Regions from separate parts of the Homo sapiens genome. Here all the other regions are linked to region 1. The links come from fine-mapping of genetic effects on gene expression. A gene starts in region 1. Each other region holds a variant in brackets. All regions are shown on one strand. Distances are between the middles of the regions.

Evidence for each region. PIP is the estimated chance that this variant, and not a neighbour inherited with it, causes the effect. A credible set is the group of variants that fine-mapping cannot tell apart.
Region 2: its variant is the best candidate, but not a certain one, in a credible set for the expression of NFRKB in whole blood (INTERVAL, PIP 0.86).
Region 3: its variant is the best candidate, but not a certain one, in a credible set for the expression of NFRKB in blood mononuclear cells (TOPMed, PIP 0.61).
Region 4: its variant is the best candidate, but not a certain one, in a credible set for the expression of NFRKB in whole blood (INTERVAL, PIP 0.76).

The regions. Positions count from the first base shown.
Region 1 is chr11:129,893,287-129,898,278 of GRCh38, reverse strand. It overlaps NFRKB (nuclear factor related to kappaB binding protein), which reads left to right and starts at 2,701. Exons shown (of 27, transcript NM_001143835.2): 1 at 2,701-2,783; 2 at 3,841-3,920. RefSeq lists a silencer at 2,545-2,984.
Region 2 is chr11:129,913,637-129,918,777 of GRCh38, reverse strand. PRDM10 (PR/SET domain 10) reads left to right here. Exons shown (of 21, transcript NM_199437.2): 14 at 60-239; 15 at 1,541-1,651; 16 at 2,918-3,118; 17 at 3,760-4,074. Among named protein-coding and RNA genes, the nearest start is that of NFRKB, 21 kb to the right of the region's middle. The variant G/A (reference allele first, on the strand shown) is at 3,058.
Region 3 is chr11:129,798,832-129,803,972 of GRCh38, reverse strand. The region is part of intron 1 of LOC124902793 (a long non-coding RNA gene); the gene reads left to right. Among named protein-coding and RNA genes, the nearest start is that of TMEM45B, 14 kb to the left of the region's middle. RefSeq lists an enhancer at 1-475. The variant T/G (reference allele first, on the strand shown) is at 2,334.
Region 4 is chr11:129,929,257-129,934,397 of GRCh38, reverse strand. It overlaps PRDM10 (PR/SET domain 10), which reads left to right. Exons shown (of 21, transcript NM_199437.2): 10 at 2,167-2,296; 11 at 3,140-3,382. Among named protein-coding and RNA genes, the nearest start is that of NFRKB, 36 kb to the right of the region's middle. The variant T/A (reference allele first, on the strand shown) is at 2,822.

The sequences.
Region 1 (4,992 bases):
TGCTGAGCTTAAGGATATCTCAATAGAAACCTCTATAACTGAAAGACAAACAATATCCAAAAACTGTGAGATGATGAAAAAAAGGTATAACTATGCCTCATGGGAATACTAGCAGAAGACAGAGAAAGGAACAGAAGAAATATTTGAAGCAATAATGATTGATTATTTCCCCAAATCAATATGGAAGATGAAACCACAGATCCGGGAAGCTCAGAGGACACACAGGATAAATGCAAAAAAATCCTTCAAAACCAAAAAACAAATGAACAAAAAATGACTTTTCTTCAGAAACTGTGCACACAAGGAGCGAGTGGAATGAAATGTTTAAGGTGTTGAGAGAAAAAAGCAGTGTCTAACCTAGAATGCTGTAGCCCATGAAATTATCCCCCAAAAGCAAAGGGGATTTGTTGCCAGTAGACCTGCCTTGGAGAGAATGTTAAGTTTTTCAGAGAGAAGAAAAATGATAAAAGTCAGAACCTCAGATCTATATAAAGAAAGAACATCATTATTACCTTTAATAATGAAGGTAAAGGAAAAGTCTTACTTATTCTTTGTTGTTTTATTTTTCTTTTTACTTTTTTGAGACAGGGTTTCACTCTGTTGCCCAGGCTGGAGTGCAGTGGTGCAATCACAGCTCACGGCAGCTTCGATCTCCCTGGCTCAAGCGATTCTCCCACCTCAGTCTCCTGAGTAGCTGGGACTACAGGCACGTGCCACCACACCTGGCTAATTTTTTGTATTTATTTTAGTAGAGATGGGGTTTCACCATATTGCCCAGGCTGGTCTCCAATTCCTGGGCTCAAGTGATCCACCCATCTCAGCCTCTCAAAGGGGAAGATCCTGGGCATTGGGACTGAGGTGTTTTTGATACGTTCATGCAAAGATGCCTGGAGTGGGTGGTTGGATTTCTGGGTTGTTTGATTCATAATTGCTTGATTCATAATTGCCAAAACCTGGAAACAATGAAGATATCTTTCAGTAAGCGAATAGATAAAACTGTGATATATCGACACAATGGAATATTATTCAGCACTAAAAAGAAATAGGAGCTATCAAGCCATGAAAAGACATGGAGGAAACTTCAATGCCTGTTACTACGGGAAGGAAGCCAATCTGAAACGGCTACATACTATGTAATTCCAACTAGATGACACTCTGGAAAAAGGCAAAACTATGGAGACAAAAAGATCAGCGGTTGCCAGGGGTAGAGGAGAGGGAGAGATGAATATGCAGAGCACAGATGATTTTTAAGACAGTGAAATTACTCTGCATTATACTGTGATGGTGGGTAATGATGTATCAATGTAGGTTCATCAGTTCTTTTGTTTGAGATGGAGTCTCGCTCTGTCTCGCTCTGTCGACAGGCTGGAGTGCAATGGCTCAATCTCGGCTCACTGCAACCTCCGCCTCCCCGGTTCAAGCAATTCTCCTGCCTCAGCTCCCGAGTAGCTGGGACTACAGGTGCCCGCCACCACGACCGGCGAATTTTTGTATTTTTAGTAGAGACGCGGTTTCACCATGTTGGCCAGGATGGTCTCGATCTCCTGATCTCGGGATCCGCCCGCCTCGGCCTCCCAAAGTGTTGGGATTACAGGCGTGAGCCACCAGGCCGGGCCGGGTTCATCAGTTCTAAGAAATGTACCACTCTGGTAGAGGATGTTGATAAAGGGAAGGCGATGCATGTGGGGAGGTGGGGCGGGGAGTATTTGGAAAATATCTTTCTGCTCAATTTTGTTAACTTTAAACCACTTTAAAAAAACAAAGTCTATCAAAAATTATAGTTTACATTGTTTTTACTCTTTTTCTCTTTCTGGTCTTGTCACAATCTCAAGGTAAGGGAAATATCGGTGACAACTATAGAGTGATATTCCACTGCCATTTATACTCGATAGTTTCTAATTCAAGAGCCTCTCAACAGTGTAACAGGAACTTAGAGCATATGTGGAGCCAGTAGAGGAACAGAGATCGGGTTGTTTGGAAACTACTCTCTTCCAGGAAGGGAAGAACATTAGCTCGGCCGGCCGGCTTCTCTGGTCCCATCCACACACAGAACTGAGGATGGTCTCTGCGCCACTGCTGGGAGTACCTGGAATAAGTAGTGTGAAGCCGTACTAAGCAAAACCCAGTGAATAACAGGAAAGGGGCCTTCATATCTAAGAAGAGGAAAATGATGGAGTTTAACTTTAAAATGTGATCCTTCGATGTGTTTACATTCTTTCTGGACATCGAGGGCCCGGGGACGGGAAGGAGGAATGAAGGAACTCGGAAGCACAGGCTGAGGTCGCGTTCTACTCATGTCCTCAACTGTAAAATGGGCACTAATAGTGCATAGCTCACAGGGCTGCAGCACAAAGACGGTGGGTAGAAAGTGCTTAGCATAGGGCCTGGGGCAGGGTATGCTCTCTGCAAACGTCAGCTAATAGACGTGCCTTCGCTCACGGGCTATGGAACTTTGATTCGCGGTCAGGCAAAGACAGGCACTGTCTGGGGCCTCTGGAAGCTCCTAAATCAGGTGAGACGCGCAAGCAGGCTGGAACCTGCATCCCCAGGCCCAGCCGCGCGCAGGCACCCTCGCCGACCCTCCGCTCTCCCGAGCCGCTCCAGGACCCGCCCGCTGTGGCCCCGCCCCGGCACCCTCCAGGCCCCGCCCCGCGCTGCCCCGCCCCTTCCGCCGCGCAGGCCCAGAGCGTGCGCGCACCCAGACTCCTTGCGGGAGCGAGTGCGTCTGGGAGCCCGCGGCCGGAGAAGGGCTGCGGGTTAGGGGGCCGGCGCCCGCGGTTCAGGTGAGGGCGGGCAAGGGGCGGCGAAAGGGTTGAAGTGTCTCCTGGGAGTGGAGGGAGCGGGAGCGGGCGGCTGGGTCCGCGAGGTCGCTGCCCGTGTGGGCGTGGGGAGCGGGAGCGGGGCGTGGGGAGCGGTGCGACGCGTGAGGCTGGGGGTTAGGGTTAGGCACGGCGTGGGGGAGGGGCGGGGCCGAGCCGTGCAGTTCTGAGGATTGGACCCGGGCCTTGGGCCAGCCGGGCTGGCACCGGAGGGGAATTTGCTGCAGAGTTGAGGGCTTTGGAGCCGGCGGTTGCTCTGGAAGGACCCGAGGGTTTAGCTTCTGCGTTGGGGAGGGTCCAGCGGGGAAAGTTAGACCAGGTGCTGAAAGCCAGTGATGAGAGGCCGAGAGGCCTTCGTGGTCTAGTGAAGAGGTTCAGAACGCCCGAAGATCTGGAAATCCTTGGCTTCCGGGGTCCAACTCCCTGGCAGCTGCCTGGTTTTGGTATTTTGAGATTCTGTTCAGAATAGTGGCAGTGCAAAGGTTGTCAGTGGACTAGATTAACTTTAGCTAGACACGCACCGTCACTGAAGAAACTTGTGAGCAAGTTGTATAGAGACCTCCTAAGAGGCAGGTAGGACACTGACTTTGCAGTTGATAGTCTGTTCTATGCCAGTTCTGTTAAGAAGGTTTTATTCTGAGCATCAGGTTGCTTCTGCAATTTTTTTTTGGTGCTATTTTGAAGTTTTGTTAAACTCACATGCTATGTGCTGTCTCACCCGCTTCACTTATTTAGGCATAGGCATGATGAGGATGTCATTTCACCATGTGCTGAAGGGTGATGAGGGGGCACAGTTGCTTGGGGACCACCCACGTGACTTGACTCAACGCTTAAGTTTCTGCTATATCTTTACATGGATCTGAAATCTCTTCAAGGGAGCTTGAAATAATTTAGTGGAACATGCTTCATTTTACATATAGTTATTCTAGAACTGTTCTTTATCATTGGAGAATTTTGGAAAAGAAAAGTACCTGTATTACGTAATTCACACTGTCACTCATCTAGAGATTATTCATTGCAGGATTCCAGAATTGGAAATAACGGGAGGGAGGACCTGGTCCAGCTTCCCTTCCTCAAATAAGGAAATTGACACCTGGCGTGGTAAGATTTGTGGAATGTGGTGTTTGTGGAATGTGGAATATGGAATTCTGGTGTTTTGACTGTTAACATCCTTTTTTCTTTTCATTTTAGTATGCTTTTTAGCCCACTTTGTAGGAATAGGAGCTGGAAAGGATGGATTTAGTAAATGTTGGTAGAGTGATTGAGTTTAAGCTCCCTGTGGTCCTGTTAGCATTGTGCAGTCCTGTGCTATCAACTTGACCCCTAATCCCAGCCATCAGTCTGAAAATGTTGTGGTATGTAGTTTTCTGAAGGTGATCAGCAGTGTTCTGTTATTACACGAAGGAGAAAAGTAGCATTAATTTACATGATTATACGGATCAAATGGACCAACTAAAGGCAGATTGGCCATTGACTTTACTGGTGGTTATGGTCAGGTGTGTGGAACCTCAGGAATTTATATGGACTAATAAAGTCATATCAGTAAGGTTCGTTTTTATTATTTAAATGTTGCGAGGTTATACAAGAGGTATTGTGTGTAGCATTAAGCACATGGGTTTGCAGGCAGGTAGACCTGAGTTTCAGTACTGCCTCTGGGGTTGGGCAAGTTACTGACCTACTCTGATTTTCAGTTTTAATTCCGATGTAATAACCCATGACCTTACTTTGCACAGTTGTAGGAATTAAATGAGATATGTGAAAGGCCTGGCTTTTAATAGGCCCTCATAAAGTGACTGTTAGCATTTGCATTTTACTAGTGTATGTTGATTTTCAGCAAATTTTCTTTTGTGAAAGAACAACAAACAATATTCTTTCTCTTTTTCCTTTCCTTTTTTTTTTTTTTTGAGACAGGGTCTCTGTTGCCCAGGCTGGAGTGCAGTAGCGTGATCACGGCTTATTGTACCCTCTGCATCTCGTGTTCAAGCGATCCTCCCACCTCAGCCTTCTGAGTAGCTGGGACTACAGGCGTGCGCCACCACGCCTGGCTGATTTTTTTTTTTTTTTTTTTTTGTAGAGAAGGGGTTTTGCCATGTTCGCTAGGCTGGTCTCAAACTCATGGATTCAAGGGGACTGCCCGCCTGGACCTCCCAAAGTACTGAGATTGTAGGTGTGA
Region 2 (5,141 bases), 20 kb before region 1:
TCAGTTAAAAATTTTCTACCCCCGTGTCTACCCCGTTTTCAAAAATACTCTCCAAATAGCGAAAAGACAAACTACGGGAACACATGCAGAGGATGCATAATCCTGAGAGGGAGGCCAAGAAAGCCGACCGCATCAGCCGCTCCAAGACGTTCAAGCCCCGCATCACGTCCACAGACTACGACAGCTTCACGTTCAAGTGCCGCCTGTGCATGATGGGCTTCCGGCGGCGCGGCATGCTGGTCAGTGCCCAGTGGCTGCGGGTTCCTCTGTCTTCCCAGCATACCTCATTGCTGTCGATGATGGTGACGTTTGTGTTGCATTGTGTCCTAAGTTATATCGATCAATGGTTTTGTCAATGTCCAGGGGAAGAAACAGAGGCAAACGATTCCCAATTTGGAGTTCTGTCTTTTCTAGTCTCCCTTTGCTCTCTCTTGCTGCTTTTTGGATCAATTCTTGTAAGAGGTCTTTTTCTTTTTCTTTTTTTTTTTTTAATCACTTTTCATTACTACTTTTGTTTTTCTTTACCCATCTCAATCTCTGCTCTCACCTTATTTTAGTTCCCTCTTTTGTGTCCCTGAATGTATTTTTTTAATGGGGTATTTGCCTTCTCCCCAGCTGTTCCCTTTTATTTTATTTATTTATTTTTGAGACAGAATTTCGCTCCTGTTGCCCAGGCTGGAGTGAAATGGCGTGATCTCAGCTCACTGCAACCTCCCCCTCCCAGGTTCAAGCGATTCTCCTGCTTCAGCCTCCTGAGTAGCTGGGATTACAGGTGCCCACCACCATGCCTGGCTAATTTTTGTATTTTTAGTAGACACGGGGTTTCACCATTTTGGCAAGGCTGGTCTCAAACTCCTGACCTCAGGTGATCCACCTGCCTCAGCCTCCCAGAATGCTGGGATTACAGGCGTGAGCCACTGCACCCAGCCCCCAGCTGTTTCCTTTTAATGCCTCTCTTTTCCAGATATCAAACAGCAGTAGAAGGAAGCTTTCCGTCAAAGCAGGGTATGTGCATCCAGGTTAGCTGAAGCATCAGACAGCCAGTGCTCTGCTCTCAACTCATTTTGACCTTGTTACGGGTGCAGAATATATTTCTGCCAGGTGCTGGAAAGTCATAGAGCAATATTTAAAATTCAGAACCTTAGTCTGTATCTCATTCCATGTTCTTAGTAAGACTAGGGCATTAAATAATGAAAGACAGGTTTGCATGAGGAGAACTCACCAAAGAAATTCATACCAGTGTAATTTTCCTTTTTCCAATAGTAGTTCTTTCAGCCAAAGACTGTTGATGGCTGAATTCACCACAGTGAGTCACCTTCAATTGTTTGGTGAATTATTGTTAACTCCTGTTAACCATGACTGTGAGTGCTTTGGCATCAGATGGGGTCTGGTGATCCTGGTTCTGGCCAAATGCCTTATTATTTGGGGGCATTGCTTCAGAGAATTCCAGCTTCTGGCGGTCATTATCAGAGGCATTCGTGTAGCTTCTGTTTGGTTAATGGGGTCTCTTTTTCTCATTGGTTCTTTCTTTTCCCTTTAGGTAAATCACTTATCGAAGAGACACCCAGACATGAAGATAGAAGAGGTGCCAGAGTTAACTCTACCCATCATAAAACCCAATCGTGATTACTTTTGTCAGTATTGCGATAAGGTAAAAGGGAAATATTCATATTGGTATGCCACTGGGGTTCCCTGCTTAGAGCTGACTTGTCCGTATTTATAAATATATACTACGATTTTTTTGTTACTCTTACCAGATGGTTACCTGTCTCTCAGTAGTCTCCATTCAGACAAGAAAGGACTAGAAATACAGCCTTATTTTAAGCCAAATTTTTTTCTTAAGAAATAGTTGACTTCATTTTTCTTACTGTCCCTTCTCTCTGTGATTTTTGTTACACAAGAAGAGGTTTATTACTAGTGCTTAGTGTATGAATTAATTTCAAATTCCTAGGCTCTAAAATGAGAGCATTTATCATGACCTATAACATATATGGTAGTTTTGGGGTTTCTATAAGGTGGAGGGGGTTGGGAAAGCTTTGTGGTGGAGTACTCTACTTGTACTATTGCATTATTTTCATGTAGTTACAGAAAAGACACAGAATATATATTTATTATTCCACTGTAATATCCTTTCTTACTTTTTGAGATGGAGTCTTGCTCTGTTACACAGGCTGGAGTGCAGTGGCATGATCTCAGCTCACTGCAACTTCCGCCTGGGTTCAAGCGATTCTCCTGCCTCTGCCTCTGGAGTAGCTGGGATTACAGGCGCCAGCCCCCACGCCCAACTAATTTTTGTATTTTTAGTAGAGACAGGGTTTCACCATGTTGGCCAGGATGATCCACCCTCAGGTGATCGCCCGCCTCGGCCTCCCAAAGTGCTGGGATTATAGGCATGAGCCACCACACCCAGCCATCCTTTCCTTATATAATGTAGCTATATCAGCTTAAAAGTGAGAAACATTTTTTAACATAGATTCCCCACTATAGATAGCAGTTGCTATTGACGTTGCCATTTGGAAGATTCTCTGGCTCCTGGTCTTCAGCTGCGTACATCATATGAGAGCTTTCACAGGCAGCTCTCATATGAGGTGGATGGGCCTTAAAAACAATTATCTTCCTCTGTCTGTGTATCATATCCAAATTTTAAACTTTAGGATAAAGGGTATTTTCACAGTTATTATCTTAGATTTATAGATTAAAGAAAGAAACCTATCATATCTACATTATGTTCTTATTTTATTCTAATTTGTAGTATATCCTTGCTCTTCAATAGATCTGTTAATATACATATTAATATATTTTATTTGGGGCTACATGAATACTTTTCCTCATTTTCTTATAATGAAATTGTTAGTTTGCTTTAAGCAAGAAAGTGGAACTGTATACTGCTTTCATGGCAAGGCGCTTACATTTGCAGGTTTATAAAAGTGCCAGCAAGCGCAAAGCCCACATTCTGAAGAACCACCCAGGAGCAGAGCTCCCACCGAGCATTCGGAAGCTCCGACCCGCTGGTCCTGGAGAGCCAGACCCCATGCTGAGCACACACACCCAGCTGAC[G/A]GGCACCATCGCCACCCCTCCCGTCTGCTGTCCCCACTGCTCCAAGCAGTACAGCAGCAAGGTAGGGGGAGTTTCTGACTAAAGCTAAGGTCAAAACCGCCATGCGAGGAATCTCTTAAGGAAAGGTGGCTTCTCATCCACATGGCCTGGATGGCTCCTTCTGAGTTGACGGGGGACTGAAAGAGATGTTGTCCTAGTCACTGTAAACAGAGAGCACAGCAGAGAATGGAAAGAGGATACTGTGGACCTCCCCAGAATTAGTGCCGTACAGCAGCCCGAGCAGCTGGCTGTTTTCCTTTTCCCTTGGCCTGCGGAGGGCCTCACGTTTGAATGTTCTGTGCTTGCAGTTGGTGAGTTCAGGCTTTTGGAAGCACCACATAGAAAGTTACGTGGTGGCTTTACAAAGGAGGTCATTTTGGCTGGGGGGATTGTGATTGATTGCTGCAGGTACTATTTGGGGGGGGTATTGAGACCTTGCTGATGGTGTGAGGTCAGGTGAGGTTTTACTTCTTCCCCACCCTCTTCCCTGCTTTCATAGCATTATGTTACCCCAGGAAGTACAGGCATAGAGTCAGTGTTGCTCTGATTTTTCTTTTTTTAAGACATAAAAGACTTTAGGAATCTTTGGAGGATTTACATATGAGAAAAACGGAAAATCACAAATTCTAATAATTATTCTTGTTTTTTGCCTTGCTTTTTCAGACCAAGATGGTCCAGCACATTCGAAAGAAGCATCCAGAGTTCGCCCAGCTCTCCAACACCATACACACACCACTGACGACAGCTGTGATCAGTGCCACCCCAGCGGTTTTGACTACAGACAGCGCCACTGGAGAGACTGTGGTGACGACGGACCTGCTCACCCAAGCAATGACAGAACTGTCCCAGACCTTAACGACAGACTACCGAACGCCACAAGGGGATTACCAGAGAATTCAGTACATCCCTGTGTCGCAGTCGGCGTCTGGCCTCCAGCAGCCTCAGCACATACAGCTGCAAGTGGTTCAAGTGGCCTCGGTACTGCGTGCCTTGGTTTCCCTTTGCCTTATGAATGCCGTGTTGCCACTAGCACCTCATTCTCAGAGCTGGGGCTGGGATCTATGTAATGTCCTTCTGCGTGGAAGTTCTGAGCCTTGGGCATTTTACAACTGCCCCTTCCCCTTTCAGGCTGATGAGGCCTCTGGCCTTAGCAATGTAAGAGATTTCTGTCTATAGTAGTCAGGAAATTTTAGGTTCCAGCATATACAAGCCTCCTGTGCTGTGGCAGGACAGTAGCCACAGCACCTGTTTCTGACCCTCTTCTGATCCTTATCTTTAACCATCCTGGTTGGCTGCTTGGTAATGAGCCAGTTTGATAAATCACGACCTGCGTATCAAATGTCTTATATCAAAGAGAGGTCATAAAGCATAATATTGATGGCTGGGCGCAGTGGCTCATGCCTGTAATCCCAGCACTTTTGGGAGGCTGAGGCGGGCAGATCACTTGAGGTCAGGAGTTCGAGACCAGCCTGGCCAACATGGCAAAATCTCGTCTCTACTAAAAATACAAAAATTAGCTGGGCATGGTGGCGGATGCCTGTAATCCCAGCTACTCAGGAAGCTGGGGCAGGAGAATTGCTTGAACCTGGGAGGCGGAGGTTGCAGTGAGCTGAGATCACACCATTGCACTCCAGCCTGGGCGACAGAACAGGACTCAAAAAAAAAAATTGAGTCAATCTCTGCATATCAGTCAGTGCCTTTGTAGTATAGAGGTATAACTGTGTTCCTTCTACCAGATAATGAATAACTCATTCTTATTGACTAAGGAACTAAATGAAAGTGATTCTCCCAGAACTATTGTTTCATTTAATTACACTGAGGAGAAGTGTCCCCAAGGCACAAATGAACAAACTTGTTGCTTTGAAATCATTTGGTCTCTGAAAATTTAAAACTAACATGGGGACAGGAAATTGGAAGTTGCCACTGTCGTTGACTATTCTTTGTCTTGTTTTTCTTATGGAGGGTTTTTAACTTCAGGCTTTGGAGGAAGCTATATGAGTCCCTGAAGTTGCCTGTAAATTATGATGTATAGGTACATTGTTCTA
Region 3 (5,141 bases), 94 kb after region 1:
GTGGTGGGTGGGACCCTAGAAGTCCCAAGATTAAATTCTCTTTGTCTTCTGCTACTAGGGTGGATTGGGAAGGACTATCAGGTGGAGGCGAGGCTTGGTGTGATGAGCTGAGACTCTCCTTGGGCGGGTCTTGCTGTGGCTGCTGTGGGGGATGGGAGTGAGATTCCCAGGTCATTGGAGCTGTGTACCTAGGAGGATTATGGCTGCCTCTGCTGAGTCATGCAGGTTGTCAGGGAAGTGGGGGAAAGCCAGCAGTCACAGGTCTCACCCAGCTCCCATATAAACCGAAGGGCCACTCTCATTCCTACTGTGCCTCCCACAACAGCCCTGAGTCTGTTTCCAGGCAGAGGGCGGGATGGACTTGAAAACTTACTGGAGGCTTTGTGCCTCCCAGCTGTGAAAGAAAATGGCTTTAGTTCTTCCCCTTGCCTGTGAAGTCTGTGCACCAGATTCATGCCCTCCCACAAGTTCTGGCTAGGAGGCTTCTCACCCCTTTCAAATTGTTACAAAGTTCAGCTAGAGATTTCCTTCTCCTTGTGGAGTTTAACCGCCTGCTCCTCTGGCCACCCTCCCGATGGATTCCTGTGGTGTCAGGCAGGAATGGGCTGCTTGGGGACCTAGTGAGCTCCCAGCGCCTTTCTGGTGCTTCCTGTACCCCTGTATTTCGCTCAGCTCTCTAACTTGACTCAGCTCCAGGTAAAGTTGGAAACTTCTCTTGCAAACAGACCTTCATCTTCTCTAGTGGGGGTGTGTGTTTGGGAAAGGAGAATCTCCCTTCTCACTTATGCAGTTGGGGCACTCACAGTATTTAGGGTGTCTCCTGGCTCCCACAGGAGCAGTCTGCTTCCTTCAGAGGGTCTTTGGGTCTTCTAAGGATTGCTGTTTTTTTCTTGCAGTCAATCTGGGCTAAAATTCACAATGCAAGCCTCTGCATGCTGCCTTGTTTGGAGCTGCAATCTAGTCCTGCCCCCCATCTGCCATGATCCCAAAATCCCCCTGTATTATCTTTTTGATAATGCTGTTGGATTCGGTTAGCTACTATTTTGTTGAGGATTTTTGCATCTATGTTCATCAGAGATATTGGTCTATAGTTTTCTTTTCTTTCTTTTTTGTTTGTTTGTTATATCCTTAACTGGTTTTGGAATTAGGGTGATACTGACTTCATAGAATGATTTAGGGAGTATTCCCTCTTTCTCTATCTTTTGGAATATTTTCAGTAAGATTGATACCAATTCTGCTTTGAATGTCTGATAGAATTCAACTGTGAATCCATCTGATCCTGGACTTTTTTCATTGGCAATTTTTTTTTTTTTTTCCGAGATGGAGTCTTGCTCTGTCACCCAGGCTGGAGTGCTGTTGAGAGGTGAAGCTGTCTGGGCTCCTGGGTCGGGTGGGGCCTTGGAGAACTTTTCTGTCTAGCTAAAGGTTTGTAAATGCACCAATCAGCGCTCTGTGTCTAGCTAAATGTTTGTAAACGCACCAATCAGCACTCTGTAAAAACAGACTGATCAGCACTCTGTAAAATGGACCAATCAGCACTCTGTAAAATGGACCAATCAGCAGGAAGTGAGTGGGGCCAAATAAGGGAATAAAAGCTGGCCACCCAAGCCAGCAGCGGCAACCCGCTCAGGTCCCCTTCTATGCTGTGGAAGCTTTGTTCTTTCGCTCTTCACAATAAATCTTGCTGCTGCTCACTCTTTGGGGCCACACTACCTTTATGAGCTGTAACACTCACTGCGAAGGTCTGTGCTTCACTCCTGAAGTCAGCAAGACCATGAACCCACCGGGAGGAACAAGTAACTCCGGATGCACCACCTTTATGAGCTGTAACACTCACTACGAAGGTCTGCAGCTTCACTCCTGAAGTCAGTGAGACCATGAACCCACCAGGAGGAACAAAAAACTCCAGTCGCACCACCTTTAAGAGCTGTAACACTCATCGCGAAGGTCTGCAGCTTCACTCCTGAAGTTGGCAAGACCGCAAACCCACTGGAAGGAAGAAACTCCAGACACATCTGAAGATCTGAAGGAACAAACTCCGGACACACCATCTTTAAGAACTGTAGCACTCACCATGAGGGTCCGCGCCTTCATTCTTGACGTCAGTGAGACCAAGAACCCAGCGGAAAGAACCAATTCTGGACACAGTGTGGCATGATCTTGGCTCACTGTGACATCTGCCTCCTGGGTTCAAGCAATTCTCCTGCCTCGGCCTCCCAAATACTTGGGATTATAGGTGCGTGCCACCACACCCAGCTATTTTTTTTGTATTTTTAGTAGAGACTGTGTTTCACCATGTTGGCCAGGCTGGTCTTGAACTCTTGACCTAGTGA[T/G]CCACCCACCTCGGCCTCCCAGAGTGTTGGGATTACTGTGAGCCACCACACCTGACTTTGTTGGCAATTTTTTTTTTTTTTTTGAGACGGAGTTTCGCTCTTGTTGCCTAGGCTGGAGTGCGATGGTGTGACCTTGGCTCACTGCAATGTCTGCCTCCTGAGTTCAAGGGATTCTCCTGCCGCAGCCTACTGAGTAACTGGGATTACAGGTGCTTGCCACCATACCAGGCTAATTTTTTGTATTTTTAGTAGAGATGGGGTTTCACCATTTTGGTCAGGCTGGTCTCGAACTCCTGACCTCAGGTGATCCACCTGCCTCGGCCTCCCAAAGTGCTGAGATTACAGTTGTGAGCCACCATGCCTGTATGGCAATTTTAAAATTAGTGTTTCAATCTTGCTACTTGTAATTGGCCTGTTCAGAGTTCTATTTCTTCCTGATTTAACCTAGGAGGGTGGTATATTTCCAGGAGTTTATCCATCTCCACTAGATTTTCTAGTTTGTGTGTGTAAAGGTGTTCATAGTAGCCTTAAATGGTCTTTCATATTTCTGTGGTATCAGTTGTAATATCTCTCATTTTATTTCTAATTGAGCTTGTTTGGATTTTTTCTCTCTTATTTTCTTGGTTAATCTTGCTCATGTTCTAGCAGTTTTGTTTCTCTTTTCAAAGAACCAGCTTTTTGTTCCATTTATTTTTTTTAGTTTAAATTTCATTTAGTTCTCCCATCTTTGTTATTTCTTTTCTTCTGCTGAGTTTTTTTTTGTTTGTTCTTGTTTCTCTAGTTCTTTGAAGTGTGACCTTAGATTGTCTATTTGCATTCTTTCATCCTTTTTGATGTAGGTGTTTAATGCTCTGAACTTTTCTCTTAGCAACACTTTTGCTGTATCCCAGAGGTTTTGAAAAGTTGTGTCACTATTATTCAGCTCAAATAATTTTTAAATTTCCATCTTGATTTTACTGTTGACCCAAAGATAATTCAAGAGCAGATTATTTAATTTACATGTATTTTTTATACTTTTGAGGGTTCTTTTTGGAGTTTTCAGTTTTATTCCACTGTGGTCTGAGAGGATACTTGATATAATTTTGATTTTTAAAAACTTACTGAGACTTGTTTTGTGACCTATTATATGGTCTATCTTGGAGAATGTTCCATGTGCTGAAGAAAAGAATGTATATTCTGCAGTTGTTGGATAGAATGTTCTGTAAATATCTGTTAAACTATACCTTGGTGCAAATGGACTTAAGTCCATTGTTTCTTTGTTGACTTTTGGTCTTGACGACCTGTCTAGTGTTGTCAGTGGAGTACTGAAGTCCCCCACTATTATTGTGTTGCTGTCTGTCTTGTTTTTTAGGTCTAGTAGTAATTGTTTTATAAATTTGGGAGCTCCAGTGTTAGATGCATATATAGTTAGGATTGTGGTATTTTCCTGTTGGACAAGGCCTTTTATCATTATATAATGTCCTTCTTTGTCTTTTTAAACTGTTGTTACTTTAAAGTCTGTTTTGTCTGATACAAGAATAGCTACTCCTGCTCCCTTTTGGATTCCATTGATGTAAAACGTCTTTTTCCATCCCTTTACCTTAAGTTTATGTGAGTTTTTATGTGTTAGGTGAGTCTCTTGAAGGCAGCAGATAGTTGGTTGGTGTATTTTTATCCATTCTGCCATTCTGTATCTTCTAAGTGGAGCATTTGGGCCATTTACATTCAATGTTAGTATTGAGATGTGAGGTACTGATGTTCTATTCATCGTATTAGTTGTTGCCTTAATACCTTGTTTTTTTCCCCACTGTATTATTGTTTTATAGGCCCTGTGAGATTTATGATTTAAGGAGGTTCTATTAATATTTTGGTGTATTTTGAGCTTTTGTTTTAAGATTTAGAGCTCATTTAAGCATTTCTTGTAGTGCTGGTTTAGTGGTGACAAATTCTGTCAGCATTTGTTTGTCTGAAAAAAGACTTTATCTTTCCTTCATTTATGAAGCTTAGTTTTACTGAATACAAAATTCTTGGCTGAAAATTATTTTGTTTCAGGAGGCTAAAGATGGGTCCCCAGTACCTTCTGGCTTATCAGGTTTCTGCTGAGAAGTCTGAAAAGTTTTCCTACACAGGCTACCTAATACTTTTGCCTCACAGCTCGTAAGATCCTTTCCTTAACATTCTTGACTTTAGACAACCTGATGATTATGTGCTTAGGTGATGATCTTTTTGTGATGAATTTCCCAGGTGTTCCTTGAGCTTCTTGTATTTGGATGCCTAGATCTCTAGCAAGACCAGGGAAGTTTTCTCAATTATTCCCTCAAACAAGTTTTCCAGATTTTTAGATTTCACTTCTTCCTCAGGAACATCAGTTATTCTTAGGTTTAGCTGTTGGGAGGGTTTGTTCATTTTTAACTTCTTTTTTTCTTTGTCTTCGTCTGATTGGGTTAATTCAGAAGCCTTGTCTTTGAGGTCTGAAGTTCTTTCTTCTACTTGCTCTAGTCTATTGTTGACCTTTCCAATGCATTTTGTGTTTCTTTAAGTGTATCTTTCATTTCCAGAAGTGATTTTTTTCATTGTGACATCATTTCTCTGGAGAATTTTTCATTCATATCCTGTATTGCTTTTTAAATTTCTTTAAGTTGGTTTTCACCTTTCTCTGGCATTTCCTTGAGTAGCTTAATAATCACCCTTCTGAGTTCTTTATCTGGCAATTCAGAGATTTCTTCTTGGCTTGCATCCATTGCTGGGGAGCTGGTGTGATCATTGGGGGTATTATAGAGCCCTGTTTTGTCATATTACCAGAATTGCTTTTCTGTTCTTTTCTCATTT
Region 4 (5,141 bases), 36 kb before region 1:
TGTAGGGTTGCCAGCTTTTCTAGGGTTTGGAAAGAGAGGAGATGTGTGAGATGGTAGTTGGGTAAGTGGGAAAGCGAATGTTCTAGGGAAGTACCATACAATTGCCCACTCTATTAAATGCCCACTTGGGGTTCATGGTTATGAAATGAAAGTGAGCCCACTAGCATGGCTGTGCGTTTTCTCCAGCTTCATTCAGCTGCAGGGATGCTGGTGCAGAGCAGGCAGGGAATTGAATTACACAGGGTTGTGGCTTTGCCAAGTGCTCATAACACACATTGAGAAAACAGAGCAGCCATGGGATGGGAACTGAGAGCACGCACGAGGGAGTGGTTCCAGTGGATGACCTTGGAGCGTATGCTGTGGAAGAAGGGGAGAGAACATCAAGGCAGTGATGCAGAGCTGCACGAAAGCACCGGAAGGATTGAACTGGAGATGCTCGCGTGGCTGAAGGGTTGCTGAGTGCTGGGTACTAGAGGGAGTAAACTACAGAGCCAGGGTAGTGTCCGAGTGGGCAGTGCATGGGATTGGCATGAAGAGGCTTACAAGGGTGACAGGGTCTAGAATGTGACCACAGGGGTAAATGTCTAAGGAGGGGGTGGACACAGTGAGATTTGAGTCACTCCTGGGAATCTCCAAAACTCTGTTCATGGCTCTATTGTAGCATTTTTTATATTATATTGTGATTTTTGGTTTATATGCCAGCTCCCTTTTCTAGACCCCTGAGGGTAAAATCTGTTGCCTGTAATCTGATGTCCTTAGTGCCTAGCCCAGTATGTGATACACAGTAGGTAATATGTTTGTTAGCCAACTGTTAAGAGAAACCTGGGACAACTAGGAAGATTTGAACTTTGACTAGATATAATAATACTCAGCAACTCTCAGATATTTCTCAGGTGTGATAATGGTATTGTGGTCATATATATATAAAGAGTTCTTATGATTCAGAGAGACATGCCAAGATATCTAGAGATGAAAAGATATCTGGGATTTGCTTCCAAGTCATCTACTGGGTATGTGTGTGGGCAAGTGGTGGGGATATAGATGGAAAATGTTGGCCATGGTTTGAAAAATGTTGGAATTGGGTTATGGGTACATTGGGCTCATCGTGCTAGTCTCTACATTCACCTAGGTTCAGAATTTTCCAACATGAAGAGTCTTTTAAAAGTTCCTGGAAAAAATATATAGTATTTGTTAAATTATTAAATGGATGAGTGGAAGAATAAAATTTGATCTGATTGACATTGTACACTTCCCACATACATATCTTCTAAAAGAAGCTTTCATAACCTACTTTTTTAAGCCTCTTTTATTAAGGAATTTGTGTTTGTTGGCAATTCATGCCAGGCATGGTGGCTCATGCCTGTAATCCCCGCACTTTGGGAGGCCCAAGAGGGAGGATTGCTTGAGTTCCAGACCAGCCCAGGCAACACGGTGAAACCCCATCTCTACAAAAAATTAAATAAAATTAGCTGGGCGTGGTGCCACATGCCTGTAGTCCCAGCTACTTGGGACGCTGAGGTGGGAGGATCGCTTGAGCCCAGGTGGTTGAGGCCACAGTGAGCCATGATTACATCACTGCACTCCAGCCTGGGTAGCAGAGCAAGACCTAGCCTCAAAAAGAGAAAAAAAAAAAGTCCATTAAAGGGGATGCAAAAGTTAATTGATGTTTACTAGGCATGTTATGAAACAATTGAATTAGAAATTTGTTCTGACCTTCCAGAAGCTTGTAGTAAAACAAGAAAGTTGTTTGAATTTGGCCACATTTCTTGGAAGGAATATGAGGCGAGGCCAGGGGAAAAAGAGAGAAATAATGGGAATCTTGTCTCAGATGACATCTCCTGGGAACACGCTCAAAGGCTTAGCATGTTCTGTCCTGTCTGCCTTTCTCACATCATTTCAGAAGCAAAATATTGTCAGTGCTTTGAATTTTTATAGCTCTTTTCTTCAGAATAATTGAAGACATATCTTTAAGCTGTAATAGAGGGGAAGGATGAGACATTCAGAAAGTGTATATTAGTAAAACAGTTGTTTCTATTGGAGAAAATCTGGGAAAGTAATAAGGTGAGAGGAATCAAACTCTGGGGTTAGTAAGGATCATTTAGGTCGCTACTTGTTATGGAGTATTATGTAACCATGACGACCTGTAACCCAATCTCTTGTCCCCAGAACAAGAGGCAGAGGAAGGGGACGAGGCAAGAGGCGATTCGGTCCAGGTCGACGGCCGGGGCGTCCTCCAAAATTTATCCGCCTGGAAATCACCAGCGAAAATGGGGAAAAGAGTGACGATGGGACACAGGTACGGGGGGACGGGAAGGAGCCCTCCTTAGGTGCTTGTGTGGAGGACTCGCCAGATCCCTGACGAGACCTAAGTACAAAGACCTTCCCAATGTTTGTAGACCTTTCCTATCAGACCTTGCTGCCTGTTAATTAAAGAATGATTGGATAATGCCAGAAAAGAATGTATTTTCAAGTGTTACCTACAACAAAAACCCAACTTTGCTGCTCTAAAGATTTAAAATTGACCGGACTTGGCCAGGCGCAGTGGCTCATGCCTGTAATCCCAGCGCTTTGGGAGGCCGAGGTGGGCGGATCACGAGGTCAGGAGATCGAGACCATCCTGGCTAACACGGTGAAACCCCGTCTCTACTAAAAATACAAAAAAAATTAGCTGGGTGCAGTGGCGGGCGCCTGCAATCCCAGCTACTCGGGAGGCGGAGGCAGGAGAATGGCGTGAACCGGGAGGCGGAGCTTGCAGTGAGTCGAGATCGCGCCACTGCACTCCAGCCTGGGGACAGAGCGAGACTCCGTCTCAAAAAAAAAA[T/A]AAAATAAAATAAAATAAAAATAAATAAATAAATAAAATTGACCAGAGTTAGTAGAGGTGGACTTTGTTTAATTAGTTTAAACAATTAAAATTATTGATATTCCAGAAAAGTCAGATCACAGTCTTTTCCTTGTTAAGTGGTGTGGAACCTCTCCTGCTTTTGCCTTCTGTGCATAGTTACCTAATTAACTTTCCCAGAGGGAGAATATTTTTTCTGAGTATTATGAATCTAGTCATTCTGAAATAAGCAGCAATTCTAAATCTGAGCTGACAGTCCCTCCGGCACTGATCTCTATTCCTGGTTATTGCAAATTTCAGGACTTGCTACATTTTCCCACAAAGGAGCAATTTGATGAGGCTGAACCAGCCACTCTGAATGGGCTGGATCAACCAGAACAGACCACTATCCCAATCCCTCAGCTGCCACAGGAAACCCAGTCTTCCCTGGAACATGAACCAGAAACTCACACCCTGCACCTGCAGCCGCAGCATGAAGAGAGCGTGGTGCCCACCCAGAGCACGCTGACAGCCGACGACATGCGCAGAGCCAAGCGCATCCGAGTAAGTGGGGAAAGCCGGCGGCTCCTGGCACCAGCCGCTCATCTTCCTCCCACCACCAGCTCTCTGGTGGTTTTCTAACCTATTCACCTTCCTCTCTGAAATCTTGCATCTAGCCTGTCACATGCTCGATCCCCTTATTTTGAAAGAAAGTGTTCACTATTTCTCAATGTCTCTGTGTCCCATGGCAGGCTGGCATGGCTGGTCCTAGATTTGACCAATTTAGTGACGACACAGAGGCCTAGAGGTTGGCAGCTCCTGGACTAGCTCTCTGCATCCCTCAATTCACAGATTGGAAGTGGAGAAATAAGTACATTTAGTTATAATAATCATTTATATTTTAAACCAGGCTAATTTGTGCCTAATCATAGCTCTCAAGTTGATTTTGGGTAACTAAATGTGCTTATCTACAGCTTCCCAGGGGAGAATGGCAAATGTCATTACTCATCAATGTAAAGTGACCTGTGTCCAAGTTGATATGGCAGGTACAGTTCACACACCTGCGGATAGCTTGAGCCAAAGCTGTCAGTTCGAGAGTTAGTCAGTGTCTGAGTCACGGGACCTGTGTCTTGGCCTCAGACCATGCGGCTGCAGGGCTTTCCTGACTTGCAGTTCAGATGCGTTTTCTCTTATTATTTCACAAATAGCATTTGACTCTGAGTTAGGAACTGCAGGGGATTCGTGTGGAAAACAATATGGCTTTGTGGGATAAGTGTCTGTGCTGATAAAAACCAATGACTTACAACCCATGTTTATGGCAGCTGAGTGCATAAAGACATATTGGTACTTTCCAGTAGATGAAAGAGACATTTTGTATAACTTCCCAGGCTTTACAATTTCTACATGCATGATCGTTCAGCGTATGTTTCTTTTGGTCTTCTTATTTGCCTCTAGGCTAGAAGGGACCTTGAAAAATAGTCTAGTCCATGCCTTCATGTAAAAACACATTTAAACATTTGTAGTCATATGATAGCTTTGAAGGGCTCTAAGAACTGAGGCTAAACAGCCTTTATGAGAGCCCTGTAATCGAAACATATGAAACTCTCAGCTCACTGTATATTATTTCACAAGAGTATATCAACATACAGAAATACAGGCCAGCAAGGAAAACAAGCTATGAAGTAATATCCCATCCATCCTTCTCCTTTAGTTCCTAATCTGCACTTCTTTCTCTTGCTCAATTACTATATTTTCTGCTTTGGCCATTCTGATTTTTTTTACTAAGTCCAGAGAAACCCTTGCTAGATTTTTTTTTTTTTTTTGGAAGGAAAAAAAAAAACCGAAGCCCACACATGCAGTGAAGTTGTGGATGCACAAACACAGTCCAGCCGTAATTGTACTTGCATTTTTGAATGAGCAGGGTTACTGGTTTTGGTGCAAGGTTCCTTGTGTCAAAGCGAAAGCCATATGTATCTGGCTTTTGGAGGTCAGTCTTAGTTGAGCTATTTTGTTTTTTTTTCTCTCACACATTCTAAAAAGTAGGGCTATGTATTTTTTCATCTTTTCTATCCAGATTGGTAATGACCAACTGAAGGGAAGTCTTCCAATCCAATTGGTAATGTAACTATTTTTCTCTCCTCTAATGCTGCCTGCTCAGTTGGAGCTGCAGGTAGGTTTGTTTCCTGTGTTTCACATAACAGAATGTTACTTGTTTGCCTGACCTGCTGTTCTTTGCAACCTGTACTTACTAAATCCTGGTGGAAACCACAGTTTGGTTGCTACAGTAAATGCAAATTAATGAATAATGATAATTTATTTGTAA